Linked DNA regions of Homo sapiens: region 1 is linked to region 2. The links come from fine-mapping of genetic effects on gene expression. A gene starts in region 2. The other region holds a variant in brackets. All regions are shown on one strand. Distances are from middle to middle.

Region 1 (8,607 bases), 20 kb after region 2:
TCGGTAAACTTCCTTTTACCATGTAATGTAATATATTCATAGTTTCTGGGGATAGGGATCTGGATGTCTTTGGGGGAATTCATTACTTGGCCTGCCACATGGGGTGAAGTAGGAATTTAACTTATTTTCCAGATGTTTAGTGAGTTGTACCAAATGATTCACTCTTTTTCAATTTACTTAAAAAGCCACTTTTATTACATATGGCATGTGTTTCTGCTTTTTATACTATATATATTTATTGCTGGATATTCTACTTTGTTCCATTGATGTGCTTACTTTCATGTTAGTACCTGACTTTAACAATTTAATGTTTTATAGGCCCGGTGGCGGTCACTCACGCCTGTAATCTCAGCACTTTGGGAGGCCGAGGCAGGTGGATTGCTTGAGATCAGGAGTTTGAAACCAGCCTGGCCAACATGGTGAGACCAGCCAGGTGTGGCAGTGCGTGCCTGTAATCCCAGCTACTCAGGAGGCTGAGGCAGAATTGCTTGAGCCCAGGAGGCAGAGGTTGCAGTGAGCCAAGGTCTTGCCACTGCTCTCCAACCTGGGCAATGGAGTAAGACTCCATCTCAAAAAAAAAAAAAAAATTAATGTTTTATAAATATGTATTTTAAAATGTTAGAGAAGATTCCCTTTTCTACTCTTTTATTTATTTGTTTTATTTGATTTACTTTTATCCTTTAAGCCTCACCTGGAAGAAGATTCCCTCTTGATACTTCTCTTTTTATTAAAAATATCTTTGCAATTCTGGCTTATGTGTTCTTTTAGATAACCTTGACAGCTGCTTCATTAATTTCTTTAAACATTTTATTTTTTATAAATTGAAATTTTGCTGAAAATATACATTAATTCATTAACATGGGAGGACTTGACATTTTATAATAGTGAATTTGCCCAAACCAGAAACATGTTAGTATTTTAAAAATACTTTTTTTTTAAGTAAAGTTTTGTTTTTTCTCCATATAAGTCTTGAAAATATAAGGACATTAGTTCATATTTTGTAAGGAGCTTTTAAAAAATGCTCCTATGAGAATTACATGTATACTTTTCAAAATTAATGTTCTTCTTATTACCTTGGTTTTTCTTTGAAAATCTGTGTCTATATCCTCAGGTCACAGAGATACAAGTTATTTTAGTCCTGTATTAATTTAAGCCTGTAAACATCAAGTCATAAAGCAGTATTAGTGTAATTAAACTTCCCAGGAGTCCTGCTTCTGCTTTTCTCCCATAGTGAAATGTTCCATGTGTAATGAAGAATTTAATGAAAAGCATCTTTTGAAGTACTGGTTGGTGAAGGGACAAGAGTGAGTCAGTGTGTGGTGAGTGAAGTCCTAATATGAATATCAAGGGAAACAGGACTTTAAAGTTGGCTGTATTGAAAATTCTCAACAGCTAGTCAAATAGGGATCAGATCTGTAGAAAAAAAGACTTTTTCCCCATTCCCTTCACAAACAAAAAACCACGTTGCTTCATGAAATCATGTCAGAAATTTTTCTTCATTTTTGCTTTGCAAGGTCAACGGCGGTTTTATTGGGCGTACCTTGGTTTTGCAGGCCTTTGCTCTAGTTTTCAAGGGAACAAGTAGATAGAAACTTAAAATTAATGTATTTATGTGGGAGCTATGGGGCAAGAAACTAGTTTCCAGTTGTAATACTGTGGGCACTAATCAGGGAATGCTTGGAGAGATATGGGCTGGGTTTGCTCATCACAACCTGTGACCCCACATTCTATATCAAAATGCACCACAGAAGTAATTCCACGAGAATTTAGTTCCTGACTGCAGATATTCATCTTATGTCTTAGATTTGTGCAGGCTAGAAAGACAGCATGATTCTCTGAGGTGGGAATAGGATGGAGCATGGACATACCCAACTCCTGGGGCACTCCAAAATTTGGGGAAACAGCCCTCATACTCTCACACACAAGAATTGAAGGCTAAATTTCCACTGAGTAGAAAAATAATATTTGAGATGTTGCATCTGGCTTATTATTCTATGTGGAACTGCACTCTCCAAAACTTTCTCTAGATCTGCACTGTCAAATATTGTTGGGGGTGAGCGACCACTGGGCCAGTGGCGTGCAGAGAAAAGAATTTCCCAAGACAGTTGTAGGTGAAGAAGGGCAGATTTATTAGAGCAAGTAACTAAATGGGAGCTGACTGCCAGGAGACAAAGTCTTGCCGGGGATTTTATAGGATGGTTCTTAGGCTGCAGAATGCTACGTGGAGTTCTGATAAAACACCAAGGTTGCAGTGAGCTAACTTGCAGGTGTCTGGTGATAGTTGGGTGAAGGAAGATTGTAAGTTATTTGTGCAGGAGGGCTATGTGTCCTGGACCATGAAGAAAGGCAGACTTACAACTTATCTGTTGTCTGTTTTTGCTTTCCCTTGGTCCTGCCAGCCTGACTTCTTTTCTGCAATTAGGACTCCACATTCCTCCACTGACAGAGCAGCGATGACAAATCTTTGGCATGTGAGTGTAGGTCTCACCTTCACCTTCTTGCTGACCAGGGACGTAGAGTTGGCCCTACCTAGGATTGTTAGTCGGTCAGGAGGTTACATGGGCCTCAGTCCCTGGGTTGGGAGTTAAATTAGGCAGAGTCGCTGTGGGACCTTAGGGGAACAGCATTTGCAGCCTCAAATTTTGTTCTGCTGGCTCCAAAGGGGATTCATTAGTTCTTTTACTGGCTGATACCCTTGCTGCAGTAACATTTTGGTTTGAAGTTGTATTCTAGAAGACGCAAAACAAGATATTTCATGAACAATACAAGGTGCAAATAAACTAGTATAATCATTATTATAGGCAGGAGAAGTGGGGCCTGGCCTGACAAATAAGGTTTTTAAATATTAATGGGATAAGGGAAAATTGAGGAACAGATATAGACATATTAGTGAGGTTAAGAAGTTGCCCAGTTTCGACCCTTGTTCCTCTGTATTCTGTCCCATTTGCTGAACCATTTATAGGCATAAAGGAATCACTCTAAATTTTGCTGGCATTAACTTTGTTGTTTCCCAACCATAGAGAAAACCTGCAGAGGTACACAGTGAACTCGTTAGAGTTGTTGTTTGGCTACCATTCCTGGTACATTTGATTATAGTTAATGATGTAACTATAATGGGCTTGTGTTAAAGCCCCTAGGAAAGGGCCAGACCCCTTGGAGTTTCTGATGCAGAGGTGAGCCTTACAGGCCATTTCTGGTGCCTTCCCTATTTGCTTTGTCACGGTGGATGATTGCCATGAGGGATCGATTGGCCCAGGTCTCTCTCCTAGACCTGTGTTTTTGGTGTGCATGTAAACGGTATAGTCTAATCCAGAGTATTGGGCTTAACAATTTCTTCTGTAGATCATGGGACTGCTAAGAGTGTAATGTCATCCTCAAGTGCTTGTTTGCGAGGGCACATCCAGCAGTTAGTGCTGTGTGTTATGTTAGCAACCTGTGATGTTACTGAGTAGAGTGGATGCCTGCGTATAGCCATTGAGACAATAGTTAGCCATGATAGACGAATAAAAACAGAGCCATGTTTAGGGAAAATGACAATATACAGGAAACTCAGGAAGACAGGAAAGAAGAAGGGCTGTAAAGAGTATAAGAAAAACAGTTAAACGCAAAGTACCTCAGCACATTGTTGTTGTGGTGTGGGGGTATATGTCATTACTGGGACAAATATAAAGAAATTTTGTCTGGGCAGTAATCTTGGAAGTTTCCTTGCAAATAGCAATTGTATACTACTTCCCTTATAAAAGCATCAATATTAAGAGGGTGAAGCTGCTTAAGAGAGGTAGTTGGAGAGTTACTGAGAGCCTGCAGTAGAACTGAATAAAAAGAGTTAGCTTTAAGAATAAGATTCAACGGCCGGGCACAGTGGCTCATGTCTGTAATCCCAACAGTTTGGGAGGCCAAGGTGGGTGGATCATGAGGTCAGGAGATCAAGACCATCCTGGCCAACATGGTGAAACCCCATCTCAAAATACAAAAATTAGCTGGGTGTGGTGGTGTGTGCCTGTAGTCCCAGCTACTCGGGAGGCTGAGGCAGGAGAATTGCTTGAACCCGAGAGGCAGAGGCTGCAGTGAGCGGAGATTGCACCACTGCACTCCAGCCTGGGTGACAGAGCGAGACTCCGTCTCAAAAAAAAAAAAAAAAGAAAGATTCAAAAGAGGTATTGGACTTACTAACTTTTAAGGAAGGTTAAAAAAATTCTAGGTTCTTTGTTTAACAAAACTTCTTTTACCTTTTTTTCTTTAACTTTAAATGAGTTTCCAATGTTTACATTCTAGTTGGATCATAAATAACGAGTCTTATCTCAGCACCAGCAACTTGGTAACAGTAAATTTAAAGCAGACAGAAAAAAAAGAGGAAGATAGAGAACTTTAGATGATTCTACTTAACCCTATGGTGCAGGTTAACCATTTGAGCTCTGACTTTTTCTTATTGTAGTTTGCCCATTAGTTTAAAATGTGCACAAAACAGGCCATAATATGTAACTAGCTGGAGTTTTAAAAAGAACAATAAAATCAGAGGTTAGGATGTTGGAAACCATCTTTTCAATCTGGACCCCTAGATTGAACAGGAAAAGAAAAAAGAAAGGAACAGAGAGGAAAAGGTTAAACTTTACAGGAGAGTTTGTGTGCCTCCTGTAAAGTTTGTGTGAGAGTGCCTGGGTTACCCCCTTTCAGCCACTGAATGGTGTGGGGCCAATACCCCTAACACCCTTGTTTCTCTCCCATCAGGGAGAGCCTTAGCACCCCAGACCTTTATGGTGTGAGATGAATTCTTCCTCACCTCTGCAAGTTACCAGTTAAGGTGAGCTGTTTTTAGCAGGAGCAGAGAGCCTCTTTAGCTTAAGGCCACTGGGGTTTGGGATTCTGTCCGGGGGGGCTCCTTTGGCTCTCAGGGCAGTCCTGTTTCCAGTGGCCAAGCTTGTGGCAGAGGGGGCAAGCATGTGGGACTTTTTTTCATTTATTCAGTTGAGGTGCTTTGCCTTTTAGTGGCCTGGCCTTTCGCACCGGTGGCAGTTATCTGGAGGAGTGTCCTTAGGGCAACGAGGAGGGGGCTGGGGTCTTGTGAAGCAGCCAACAGTTGAGCCTGGTTTTTGTCTCTGCGTCTTTCTTTTTAGCCCTGTTCTCCTTATTCTGCTCTTGGTTATAAAAGACTGAGGA[A/G]GTTAATTTGATGATTTCTTTTGCATAAGGGTTATGCTGTGTTACACAAGAAAATTACACATTTCTCTTTTTTGAGAGTCTGAGAATTAAATTTGTTTTAATGCTTTAGAATGTAGCCCAGAGGTGAGTTTGAAGGATAGATGGGGTTTGTCCCATGGTGGGACTGGAAAACATGCTGCTTGGGAGCGGTGCCACTTCAGGGCACTAATTGCACTTTCTCTTGGGACATCCTGCCAAGATGAAAAGAGGGTTCCACTTGTGTCTGCTGAGGGACTTTGGGTGCACTTTCCAAAGGGGTGTTCCACCTATTAGAAAAGAGCACTTGGCTGCTAGGGGCCTTAACGCTGGACGGCCAGTCCAGGTACTCACTCTGGGTGATCAGCCCAGGTACGAGGAAAAAAGGGTAAAGGGTGATCTCACCTGGTGCCCGCCCAGGAGAGGGAGTGGGTAAGGGAACCCTCACCATTTTGAGGCTGTCCGAGGTCACCTGATTTAGCAATGTCCAAGACAGGATGGCTGGCTGACCCCACAGGAGAATGTAGAGTGAGAAAGAGAGCACCTGAGTTACCCCAAACGTGTGTGAATTCACTCTGGATGAGCTTCTGCTGCCAGATAGGAGAGAGAGTCTTCTTCCCTTCAGGCAAGGCAGCCAGCCCTGTTCACCCTTTGGCCTTCAGGCAGCACTGGAGAGCACCAGGATGGTTAAGAAGCCAGCTGCTGAAAGACTGAAAAGAGTAAGTGAACCCAGGTCCCTCACCCAATCTGGGCAGTGGCCGTCAGATGCTTCCACACAGTCACCTTTCAGTCCCACCAGAGTGTAGCTCCTGCCGGAGACCTGCAGTTGCCTCCATGCTTAGAGGCTATTCTCGGAGGGTGCTGACTGGAGAAAGGGAAAGAGAGAGGGGAGAGAGTTTCCTGTGAGGACAGTTCCCGTCCAGAGAGAGTTCCCCCTACAGGCCACCAAAATGTTGTGGGTGAGCAGTGACTATCCTGGTGGCATGGGGGTAAAAGAATTTACCAAGGCCAGGCGCGGTGGCTCACACCTGTAATCCTAGCACTTTGGGATGCCGAGGCAGGTGGATCACCTGAGGTCAGGAGATCGAGACCAGCCTGGGCAACATGGTGAAACCCCGTCTATACTAAAAATACAACAATTAGCTGGGCGTGGTGGCGCACGCCTGTAATCCCAGCCACTCGGGAGGCTGAGGCAGAAGAGTTGCATGAACCTGGGAGTTGGAGGTTGCAGTGAGCCGAGATTGTATCACTGCAATCCAGCCTGCACAACTGGAGCGGGACTCCACCTCAAAAAAAAAAAAAAAATTTACCAAGACAGTTGTAGGTGGAGAAGGGTGGATTTATTAGAGAAAATAGGAAAATATGTTACAAGAGGGCAACGGTCAGAATCAGCAGAAGAGGAGCTGACTGCCAGGAAACAAAGTCTTGCTGGGGATTTTATAGGATGGTTCTTAGGCTGCAGAATGCTACGTGCAGTGCTGATAAAACACTAAGGTTGCAGTGAGCTAACTTGCAGGTGTCTGGTGATAGTTGGGCAATGGAAGATTGTAAGTTATTTGCACAGGAGCACTGTGTGTCCTGGACCATGAAGAAAGACAGACTTATAGTTTATCTGATGTCTGTTGTTGCTTTCCCTCGGCCCTGCCAGCGTGACTTCCTGTTCCTAATTAGGACTCCACAGATAAGATAGCTACTAGCCACGTATGACTATGGAGTACTTGAAATGTGGCTAGAGTGACTGAGGAATTGAGGAATTAAACCTTTAATTTTTTTTTTTTTTTCTTTTGAGACAGAGTCTTGCTCTGTCGCCCAGGCTGGAGTGCAGTGGTGTGATCTCGGCTCACTGCAACCTCTGCCTCCTGGGTTTAAGCGATTCTCCTGCCTCAGCCTCCCGAGTAGCTGGGACTACAGGTGTGTGCCACCACACCCAGCTATGTTTTTTGTATTTTTGTTTTTTGAGATGGAGTTTCACTTTTTCACCCAGGCTACAGTGCAGTGGCATGATCTCGGCTCACTGCAACCTCCACCTTCTGGTTTCAAGTGATTCTCCTGCCTCAGCCTCCTGAGTAGCTGGGATTACAGACACCCACCACCACACCCGGCTAATTTTTGTATTTTTTGGTACAGACAGGGTTCCACCACATTGGCCAGGCTGGTCTCCAACTCCTGACCTTGTGATCCACCCACCTCGGCCTCCCAAAGTGCTGGGATTACAGGCGTGAGCCACTGCGCCCGGCCCTGAACCTTTAATTGTATTTAATTTTAGTTAAATTAAAATGTAAATAGCCATGTGTGGTTACCACATTGGACAGAATGTTCCAGATAGAATAGTAATAGTAGCCAGATAGAATAGTAACTGTCACAGAGCTAATTGCCCTGCTTTCATTTTTTATTTATTATTATTATTATTTTTATTGAGATGGGGTTTCACTTTGTCACCCAGGCTGGAGTGCAGTGGCATAGTCATGGTTTACCACAGCCTTGACCTTCAGGGCTCAAGTGATCTTCAGCCTCAGTTTCCCAAATAGCTGGAACTACAGGTGCATGCCACCATGTTTGGCTAATTTTTTAATTTTTATTTTGTAGAGATGGGGGTCTCACTGTGTTGCCTAGGTTGGTATGGAATTCCTAAGCTCAAGCAATCCTCCCAGCCCAGCCTTCTAAAGTTTTGGGATTAAAGGTGTGAGCCACCGTACCTGGCCTGCTGTGCTTTTAGTTACAAGTAACAGAAAGCCTAACTTAAACAATAAGGATATGTACTAGCTCACCCTGTTGTTTGGCAAACCCAGCAGCTCCTACCTACATTCTCTTCCCTGGCCACCTACCATTATAGAGCCACATACTTATGTTTTTCTAGATTCCTATTTCTGACTAGTGAAATGTAGAGAAGTCTACTTGGGGGCTTTGGGAAAGTTTTATGAAAGAGATACGTGGTACCAGGGAGCCAGTGGTTGCAGGGACCCCTTCTTCCTGTCTTTAATGTGATGCCTGGAGTTATAGCAACCTTCAATCTTGAGGGGACAAGCATGAGGGCACAAAGCCAGTGTGCTTAGGATGGTGTTACAGAGAGATAAAGAGCTGTACTCTTACTCCCTTACTTCTGATTCTGTGAGAATGTTACAAATAAATTTTCGGTGCCGCAAGGAAATAGCACTGGAACATAAATTTAATTTTCTCAGCAAGGCAATTTTTACTTCTATAGGAGGATGTGACTCGTGAATGGAGTAATGGTGAGAGCACACCTGGACAGGGGAGGGGAAGGGATTCTTATTCCTGTCGCAGGTAGCCCCTACTGCTGTGTTGTTTCCCTATTGGCTAGGGTTGGACAGCACAGTCTAAGCTAATTCCAATTGGCTATTTTAAAGAGAGCAGGAGTATGAGCCAGAGTGGTGGGGTTAACAGTTTGGCAGGAAAGACAGTTATGGAACAAGTAAC
Region 2 (8,607 bases):
GAACAAAACATAACACAGAAACAGAAAAAGAATCATGGAGAATAGAGCCTATGCAAAAGGAAAAAAAAACCCAATTACCATCTGCAAGGAGATAATAAAAGATATGCAATCATGAAAAGGCAATGGGGTACTCCAACAAACGAATGCTCATAGAATAAAAAAGACCTCTTGGAAAAGTTAAAGTATGATATCAGAAACAAAAAACTCATTAAGAAGTGGAAGATAAAGTTGAGAAACTCTCCCAGAAACTACAGCAAAAAAGGCCAAAAAAGATGGAAAACAGGGCCGGGCGTGGTGGCTCACGCCTGTAATCCCAGCACTTTGGGAGGCCGAGGTGGGCGGATCACGAGGTCAGGAGATCAAGACCAACCTGGCTAACACAGTGAAACCCCGTCTCTACTAAAAATACAAAAAAAATTAGCTGGGCATGGTAGCAGGCACCTGTAGTCCCAGCTACTCGGGAGGCTGAGGCAGGAGAATGGCGTGAACCCGGGAGGTGGAGCTTGCAGTGAGCCAAGATAGTGCCACTGCAGTCCAGCCTGGGCGAAAGAGCGAGACTCCATCTCAAAACAAAAACAAAAACAAAAACAAAAACAAAACAAAAAAAAAGATGGAAAACAGGAGAGAAGTGATTTGAAAATTAAGCAACTGTATCACAGAGATCAGTCCTGGAAGTTCAATATCCTGAATAATAGGATTAAAAAGAGAGAGGGAGAGAAAGAAAATGGAAAAAAAAAATCAATAAAATAATTCAAGATATTTTCCCAGACTGAAGAGCTTGAGTGTTGAGACTGAAATAACCCACGCAGTACCCAGTGGAATCAATGAATGGGCCCACATCAAAGCAGATCATTGTGTAATTTCAAAACACTGGGGAGGAAAAGAAGATTCTTCATGCTTCCAGAGATTTAAAAAAGAAGAGGTCCTATAAAAAGATTGATGACTGATGCTTGAACCCAGGAGGCAGAGGTTGTAGTGAACTGAGACTGCACCATTGCACTCCAGCCTGGGTGACAGAGCGAGACTCTGTCTCTAAATAAATAGATAAGATTGATGATTGAATGTTTTCAGAATTCCCAACAGCAGTACTGGAAGCTAGAAGTCACTGAAGTAATAGCTTCAGAATTCTGAAGGAAAATGATTTCTATTTTTTTTTTGTTGAGACAAAGTCTCCCTCTGTTGCTGAGGCTGGAGTGCAGTGGCATGATCTTGGCTCACTGCAGCCTCCACCTCCTGGGTTCAAGTGATTCTCCTGCCTCAGCCTCCGGAGTAGCTGAGATTACAAGTGCCCACCACCACGACTGGCTAATTTTTGTATTTTTGGTAGAGACAGGTTTTCACCATGTTGGCCAAGCTGGTCTTGAACTCCTGACCTCAGGTGATCTGCCTGTCTCAGCTTCCCAAAGTGCTGGGATTACAGGTGTGAGCCACCACGCCCGGTAGAAAATGATTTCTAGCTGATAATTTTATACCCAGCCAAACTATATTAAGGATAAAGGTTTTCAGACAAGCACAGTCTCAAAAATTTTACCTGATCATGCATAAAACTGAGGGGAAAAAAGCCCCAACAACAAGAAGTAGCAATACAAACGTTATTTAGAGACATGAGCATAGGCATCAAAATAATCAGCTGAAAGATGTAAAAGTGGTTGTTTCTAGGGAAGAAGTCAGGTGGAAGGGAAAAAGGGGCCTGCTCTTTTTATTTATTTATTTTTTATTTTATTTTTATGATTGTTTATTGAGATGGAGTCTCGCTCTGTTACCCAGGCTGGAGTGCAGTGGCATGATCTCGGCTCACTGCAACCTCCACCTCCCAGGTTCAAGCGATTCTCCTGCCTCAGTCTCCAGAGTAGCTGGGATTACAGGCATGCGCCACCATGCCCAGCTAATTTTTGTATTTTTAGTAGAAATGGGGTTTTACCATGGTGGTCAGGCTGGTCTTGAACTCCTGACTCAGGGGATCTGCTTACCTGGGACTCCCAAAATACTGGGATTACAGGCATGAGCCACCACGCCTGGCTGAGGCCTGCTCTTTTAACTGTGAATGTATAACTGATAAAAATATAAAAATAGAAGACAGAGAAGAAACAGTTTTAAAAAGAAAGATAACATACTGACGTGACTTTTGAGGATTATGGTGAAGATATCCAAAGAAGATGTATGACAACAAGATTTTGAGATGCTTATGAAAACTAGTGAAAGAGTGGTCAAAGTGTAAACGGACTTTTTGGTTTTTTTAAATCCTCCTCTCTTCACCAATCCCTTGGCTTGCTCTCTTTGATGTAAGAACCTGGCTAGGCTTTCTGGAAGTAGACTCCTTGAAGTTGGCAAAAATAACAACAACAACAACAACAAAACAAAATAACCCCCCAAAACAAAAAGAAAAACAAAAAACCCCAAAACCAAAAATATCTCCGAAACCAAAAAATACCCCGCAACCAAAAAACCCCAAACCAAAACCAAACCAAACCAAAACCCAAACTGAACAAACCCAAAAATCACCAACAGAAAGAGGTATGCTAGAAGAGGTGGCATGTGCTTTCCTAAATATAGAATTGGGGGATGTTGGGAAAAGTATTGGAGGAAGGATATGGAAAGTATCCTAAAAGTGAAAGGACCAATGATGTCTGGGAAATAGCAAGTAGTCCAACTATTTGGTGGCTAGCAGTGATTCTCAAACTTTGCAGCATGTTATAGTCTTTTAAAAATCCTGATGTGGCTGGGTGTGGTGGCTTGCACCTATAATTCCAGCACTTGGGGAAGCCTAAGTGGGTGGATCACTTGAGGTCATGGGTTTGAGACCAGCCTGTCTAACATGGTGAAACCCCGCCTCTACTAAAAATCTAAAAAATTCAGCCGGGCAAGGCGGCGGGCACCTGTAATCCCAGTTACTCAGGAGGCTGAGGCAGGAGAATCACCTGAACAACAGAGTGAGACTGTCTCAAAACAAAAACAAAAACAAAAATTCCTGACGCCCATGTCAATTAGACAATTTGGGAGTAAAAGCCAAACATACGCATATTTTTGGGTTTTTTTTTTTTTTTTTGTATTTTTAGTAGAGATGGGGTTTCTCCATGTTGGTCTGGCTGGTCTCAAACTCCCGACCTCAGGTGATCCGCCTGCCTCAGGCTTCCAAAGTGCTGGGATTACGGGTGTGAGCCACCCGCCCGGCCTTGTTTTTGTTTTTAAGCTCCCCAGGTGATTCTATTGTGTAACTAAGGTTGGGAAGCACTGCAGTATAGAGTTTGCATGAGGAAGCTAAGATTGGAAATGTGGGGCAAGATTGTGAAGAAGAATCTCAAATGCCCGGGTACCTAACCTGATCTCTAGGAGACAATGGAGTGCCACTGATGGCTTTTGAACTGTACGTGATTCATCCTGATGTTTGGGGAAGATCAATGCACAGAAATCTCTGTGAGATTCTAGAAGCAAGGAGACCACTAGCTAGACTGAGACTAGTTCACAACGCAGAATGACCAGTGGAGAGAAGTATACTGTGTGCCTTAGGTGTGTCCACGTGTTACCAAAGCCTCTCTGTTTCGCTGAAATGTGTGGTCCCCCTCACTAAAGCTCTGGTGGTGTCCTCCCTGCCACCAGGCAGCCTGGTGTGGTGGTCCCCCAGAAGGATGGGCGAACCACCGGGATGCAGTGTAGGCCGAACCTTGCCCCAGGGGAGGGCGGCGGGCTTAGCTCTCTGATTGGGTGGATTCTCTGGTGTGTAGGAAAGTACTCCCAGGCCCAGAGAAGCTGTGAAGACCAAACCGGCTCCCTAGGCCGAGAACCGCTGGGGAGGTAGCAGCCAGAGGTGGTCCTCTCCGACCCACTACTCTGTCGATCATCACTGGGGAGGTGGAAAGACAAGGCAAGATCCTCATTTTGTTGCCTGCTCAGGCCTGTGCGCACTTACTCTCCATGGACACGACGGTGAGCGTGGAGCAGCCCGCGGTCTCGCTGCCCCCTTCACTCCCGGACCCCCAGCCTCCCCAGAGTGGAGGGGCAAGCACACAGTAAGTACTTGATATTCGCCCGACTCCTGAGCTCCTCATCTGTAGGAGCTAGGGGGCTTGTTCTCCGTACGTCCTTTGTTGGAGGGAGGAACGAGGGAAGGAGAAAACCCACGCTGAGGCCGTTGGCCGATCACTTTCTTTACCTCCCGGACAACATTGATGGGCCCCACTAAGGAAAGCCGAATTCTCGCATGCCCGAGGAGTGTCGGAGGTGGTTGTGCGCCTAGTCCCTCCTGGTAAAGGGTTCGAAGCACTCGTTTATTCAAAGGCGGCCGAGAGCCATACCATTTGCTTGCATGACGGGAGACACCGAAACGCCCCTTTTGAACGCGATGACAAACACCTCCTCCCACTCAGCAGCGACGTGCACGTGACAGTTTTTGGGCTCTCGCAACTACGTGGAAACTTGGAATAGGTCTGCGGCTGCACACCGCCCGGACGCCGGGGTTCCTGCGTCCCCCGCCCCCTCTGATCGCGGCTGGGTAGCCGAGCCGCAGGCAGCTGGGGGCCCCCGAACGCCGCCTCTGCATCGCGCCGCCCCTGCCCCGGGCTCCGGTAGCTTTCGGGCTTCCGCACTGCCCGCCGCGCCCTGCCCACAGGGAAGCGCTTCCCCAGGCGGCGGCGGTCCTGGTGCGGACCCTCCGGCCGCAGCCATGTGGGACCCGCGGGCAGCTAGGTGCGTAGCGGCGCGGGAAGCACTGGGGCATCTCTGGCCTTCCGGGCCCGCCACCCTTCCTGGCGGGAGGCGGCCGCGCGCGGGGACTGGCGACCCTGAGGTAGCGGCCGAACGGGCCCGCCCGGCCATCCCTGTGGGGCCCACAGCCATCTAGGTGCAGACCCGAGCCAGTTGCGCGGGGTCGGTCGCGGGGGACGGCTTCGGCCTTTTCGGTCCGGAGGGACCAGGGCACGCGCTGCGACAGGACTGCGGCGGCGCGCGGCCTGCCTAGCTCCCACCCCGGCATCGAAGCCGCAGCTCTCGGGCCCACCTCCGCATCCTCAGGGGTTCCCGGGGGCTGCCGACAGGTTCCTGACCAGCGAGCGCGCCCCCGGGGCAAGCATTCTTGGCGGGCAGAAACCTGGGAGCGGAGCACAGCGGTGCAAGGGAACCGTGCCAGGCGGGAAGGGCGGAATTTGCGGGGAACTTGGAGCGCGCTGGCCTCTTCCCGGCAGTAGGAGGCCTTCTTCCCTGCCCGCCCGATTGAGGGCTGCTGGGCTGGCTCAAACTGGACTGCACGGTCCATCAGCCTGGGCTCACCGAGTCTAGGGGGAAGGTAGTAGTAGGGACCCAAGGCTGGGAAGCGGAGCCCTTAGAAGCCCTTGCTTCTGCCTCGGAGCGTTTCCGAACCGGAGCTCGGAGTCTGTTGCCTGGGAGGCGCGTTGCGTTTCCTCCCAACTCCCTGTCTCCGTCCCGCGGGGAGCCCTGTGCACTTGCAACCCGGCTGAGATAGAGCCCATCTTTGAGGTGCAGCTCAAGCCACCTTTTCTCCCAGATCGGGGTGTTTCTGGGCAGTTGAAAGCTTTGGTGCTTCCTAGGAAAATTTTTATGGAAGTGTGCAATTTGGAAAATAAAAGAAAAAAAAATTTAAGAAGCAGAAAGAGAATGGGGCTCTGAGGTCTCTAGTTCCCCTATCTGCTCCAACCCAGTTGCTGCTGGCTCAGTTAGTCCTTATGCGGGAAGGAATAGCTGGGATTAAAGCCTTGTGTTCCCAGCGTAGGTATGCGCTCCTGCTCCCTCGTGCTGAGCGTTTTGGGTTCCAGGATCCTTTTTGATATAAGGCTGTTATCCGGATGGCATCCTGTTTGGTCCTTTATAGAAAAAAAAAAAAAGTACTACGGTGTGTGTGTGTTGGAGGGCGGGGACGGTGGTCAGGAGTTTGTTTCAACTGTTTTCCAGGCAGGTCTGTTTTGTAGGATTGCAGGATAGGTGCTTGAGTTCATATGCTCTTTGTTGGCTTTTGCATCCTCTGCGGGGGGTGGGGGGGTGGGTAGAGGTGGGATAGGTGTGTGTGGCATTCACTCCCAGAGTCGCATCCCACTGCCACTGGCCTATGTATGGGTTTCTAGGTCTTTTTTCGATCAAGACCCACACCCACCCACCTATATGTATATAATGTATATATGCATAATATGTGTGTAATATTATATATACATATATACGCACACACACATACACATGTAAAATTGCAGCAAGAGCTTCATGGTATAGTTATTCTTTCTACAGGGTGAGGCACAATGATATTTTCCATTCTATTCCCTCCCCCCACCCCCCACCAGAGGGATTCTCGCTCTGTCACCCAGGCTGGAGTGCAATGAGGCGATCTCGGCTCACTGCAGCCTCCGCCTCCTGGGTTCAAGCGATTCTCCTGCCGCAGCCTCCGAAATAGCTGGGATTACGGGGGGCCGGGGGTGGGGCGCCACCAAGCCTGACTAATTTTTGTATTTTTAGTGGAGACGGTGTTTCGCCATGTTGGCCATGCTGGTCTCAAACTCCTGATCTCAAGTGATCCACCCGCTTCTGCCTGCCAGAGTGCTGGGATTACACGCCAGAGCCACCACGCCGGCCCATTCTATGTTTTTTTTTTTTTTTTAAAGCGGGTCATAAATTGTTAACTTCACTTTATGACCGACTGACCAGCTTTATGGGGCAACTGCAGGTTCTGTTTCCGCCGCTCTCCCAGAGTATGAGGAGACCGTCAGCATTTCACAGGGGAGTTGACTTTGGAAGTGAGGACTTGGTGTAGGAGTGATGAAGTAGACTGAAATTCATACTTGAGTGATAGAATACTGTAGGACATGGCTGTGTGGTTCAAGCCAGTACCATCTACAAAGACAGACCGCAGATGCTTCTGGTTACTTTGGTTCTGGCTATGTGTCCACAGAGAGCTGGCCTCCTGCATGGATCCCAGTGGGGCCTGGTGTAAATGCTAGGGAGGTAGGGGCATAATAGCTCCTGTTCTTTTTTTTTTTTTTTTTTTTTTTTGAGGAAGAAGAAGGGAAGATGCTGCAACCCTACTGCAGCCTTGGATTCATAGTTTTCTAAAAGGATTCTTTGGGTCTTGTCTCAGAATTTCACAGCTGCAATCAAGAGCTGGACCACGATCATTTTATAGATGAAGAAATTAAGGCCCAGAAAGGCCATCACTTGTTAGTCATTACCAACGAGTTAGTGTTAGATCTGGGATTAGACAACTTATCTCTTGACTTCCCAGTCCATGGCTCTCAGGAACCAAATAGAGACTGGCCTTGTGGAAATATTAAACTTCTATTTGCTGGTTGCTTCTGTTTTCCTGAAGTTACTACCAAAGACCCATTTCTATAGTATATGCCCTCATTATTTTATCTTTGCTTTTGGGGATGAAGATTATTTTAGCAGCCAAGTAGAGCCTGCAGTCCTCCTGTTTGGGGAAGGTAAAGTGATCTGAAGAGGAGGATTTTAAGAACTGAAGTGGAGGTTGAGGTGTGGGCCTCTCTGGCCATTATCAAGTATGTGGTGTTGGTTTTCTTGACCTTAAGGAATGAACCCTCCACTGCATTTCCAGATGGGGAGGTGGGGCTGACATGTCAGTGCTTTGCCCTCAGAGTGACCGCAGGCTCATTGCTTTTAAAACAAATTTCCTTGGAGTGCTGCCTGAGGTTCCCAAGGCCAAAAGCACCCTTGTTAAGAAATCTTTACAGGAAAGAAAGACTTGGGGCAGCAAAGATGACACTGTAACAGTTACAGCAAAGACTGATAGTCGGGCTGGTTACAGCGATGGGGAGAATGGTTAAGTTTAACCTTTAAAAAAGAAAGTATTGAGCCAGATAAACAGGCATCTTTGGAACACAAAAATGTCACAGTGCCCAGCCAAGAGTGATTACTCCTTTGGTCACTCCTTAGGTTAGCAAGGTTCATTCTGCCAGAGCAGACATTTTTCTTGGTCTAAAATTGCATAAGTATTGCCTTGTTTGTTTTTGTTGAAAATCTGGAAATGTGAATGACCTTTGCCTAAGATACCCTGGACTCCGTTTACCTGAATCAATTCCATCTTTTGCTTAGATGCTGAGCCTCACAGTACCTGCCCTGTGCTCACCATAGCATGCTTGTGTGAGCTCCTGTGAGCCTGGTGGGCTGGTGGGACTCCCTGTGTGTCTTTTGGAGCCAAGCCAACTCTGGGTTTAGCTATATCTGTCTTTGAAGTTCCAGCAACATTTTGATTGGGATTTTTTATTTTTTAAGCACTGGGTCCTCCTAGCACTTGGAAAGAGGGCAGTATTCCCAGTCCGAAAAATCAGTGATGGATTTTGGAGGAAACCAGGCCAGTAGTGCACAACACATAAAATATAGAGAATTATAGCACTATATTGGGTGATCTTCATTCACTGGGGCAAGAATGCTCAGACAGCAGCCTTGACATTGGATGGGCTCATCCTTCATGTTCAGCTGTGGCCACCAGGGCAATCATTTTTGCTCACCCTTAGACTAGCTCATCTTCTGCCCATGAAGGTCCACTCTACCTGGAGGCTCAATCACTGATGACTTCTAGGGACTCATTGGCCTGAACTCATTGGCCAGGTACTAAGGCCATCTATAATCTGGCCCCCAGACTGTTTCTCTAATATG

Evidence for each region. PIP is the estimated chance that this variant, and not a neighbour inherited with it, causes the effect.
Region 1: its variant is fine-mapped to the expression of TRANK1 in monocytes (TOPMed, PIP 0.94).

The regions. Positions count from the first base shown.
Region 1 is chr3:36,921,127-36,929,733 of GRCh38, reverse strand. The region is part of intron 1 of TRANK1 (tetratricopeptide repeat and ankyrin repeat containing 1); the gene reads left to right. Among named protein-coding and RNA genes, the nearest start is that of TRANK1, 20 kb to the left of the region's middle. RefSeq lists enhancers at 5,235-5,734, 5,735-6,236. The variant A/G (reference allele first, on the strand shown) is at 5,158.
Region 2 is chr3:36,940,863-36,949,469 of GRCh38, reverse strand. It overlaps TRANK1 (tetratricopeptide repeat and ankyrin repeat containing 1), which reads left to right and starts at 4,416. Exons shown (of 24, transcript NM_001329998.2): 1 at 4,416-4,683. The coding sequence starts at 4,661. RefSeq lists an enhancer at 4,249-4,318 and a silencer at 4,549-4,768.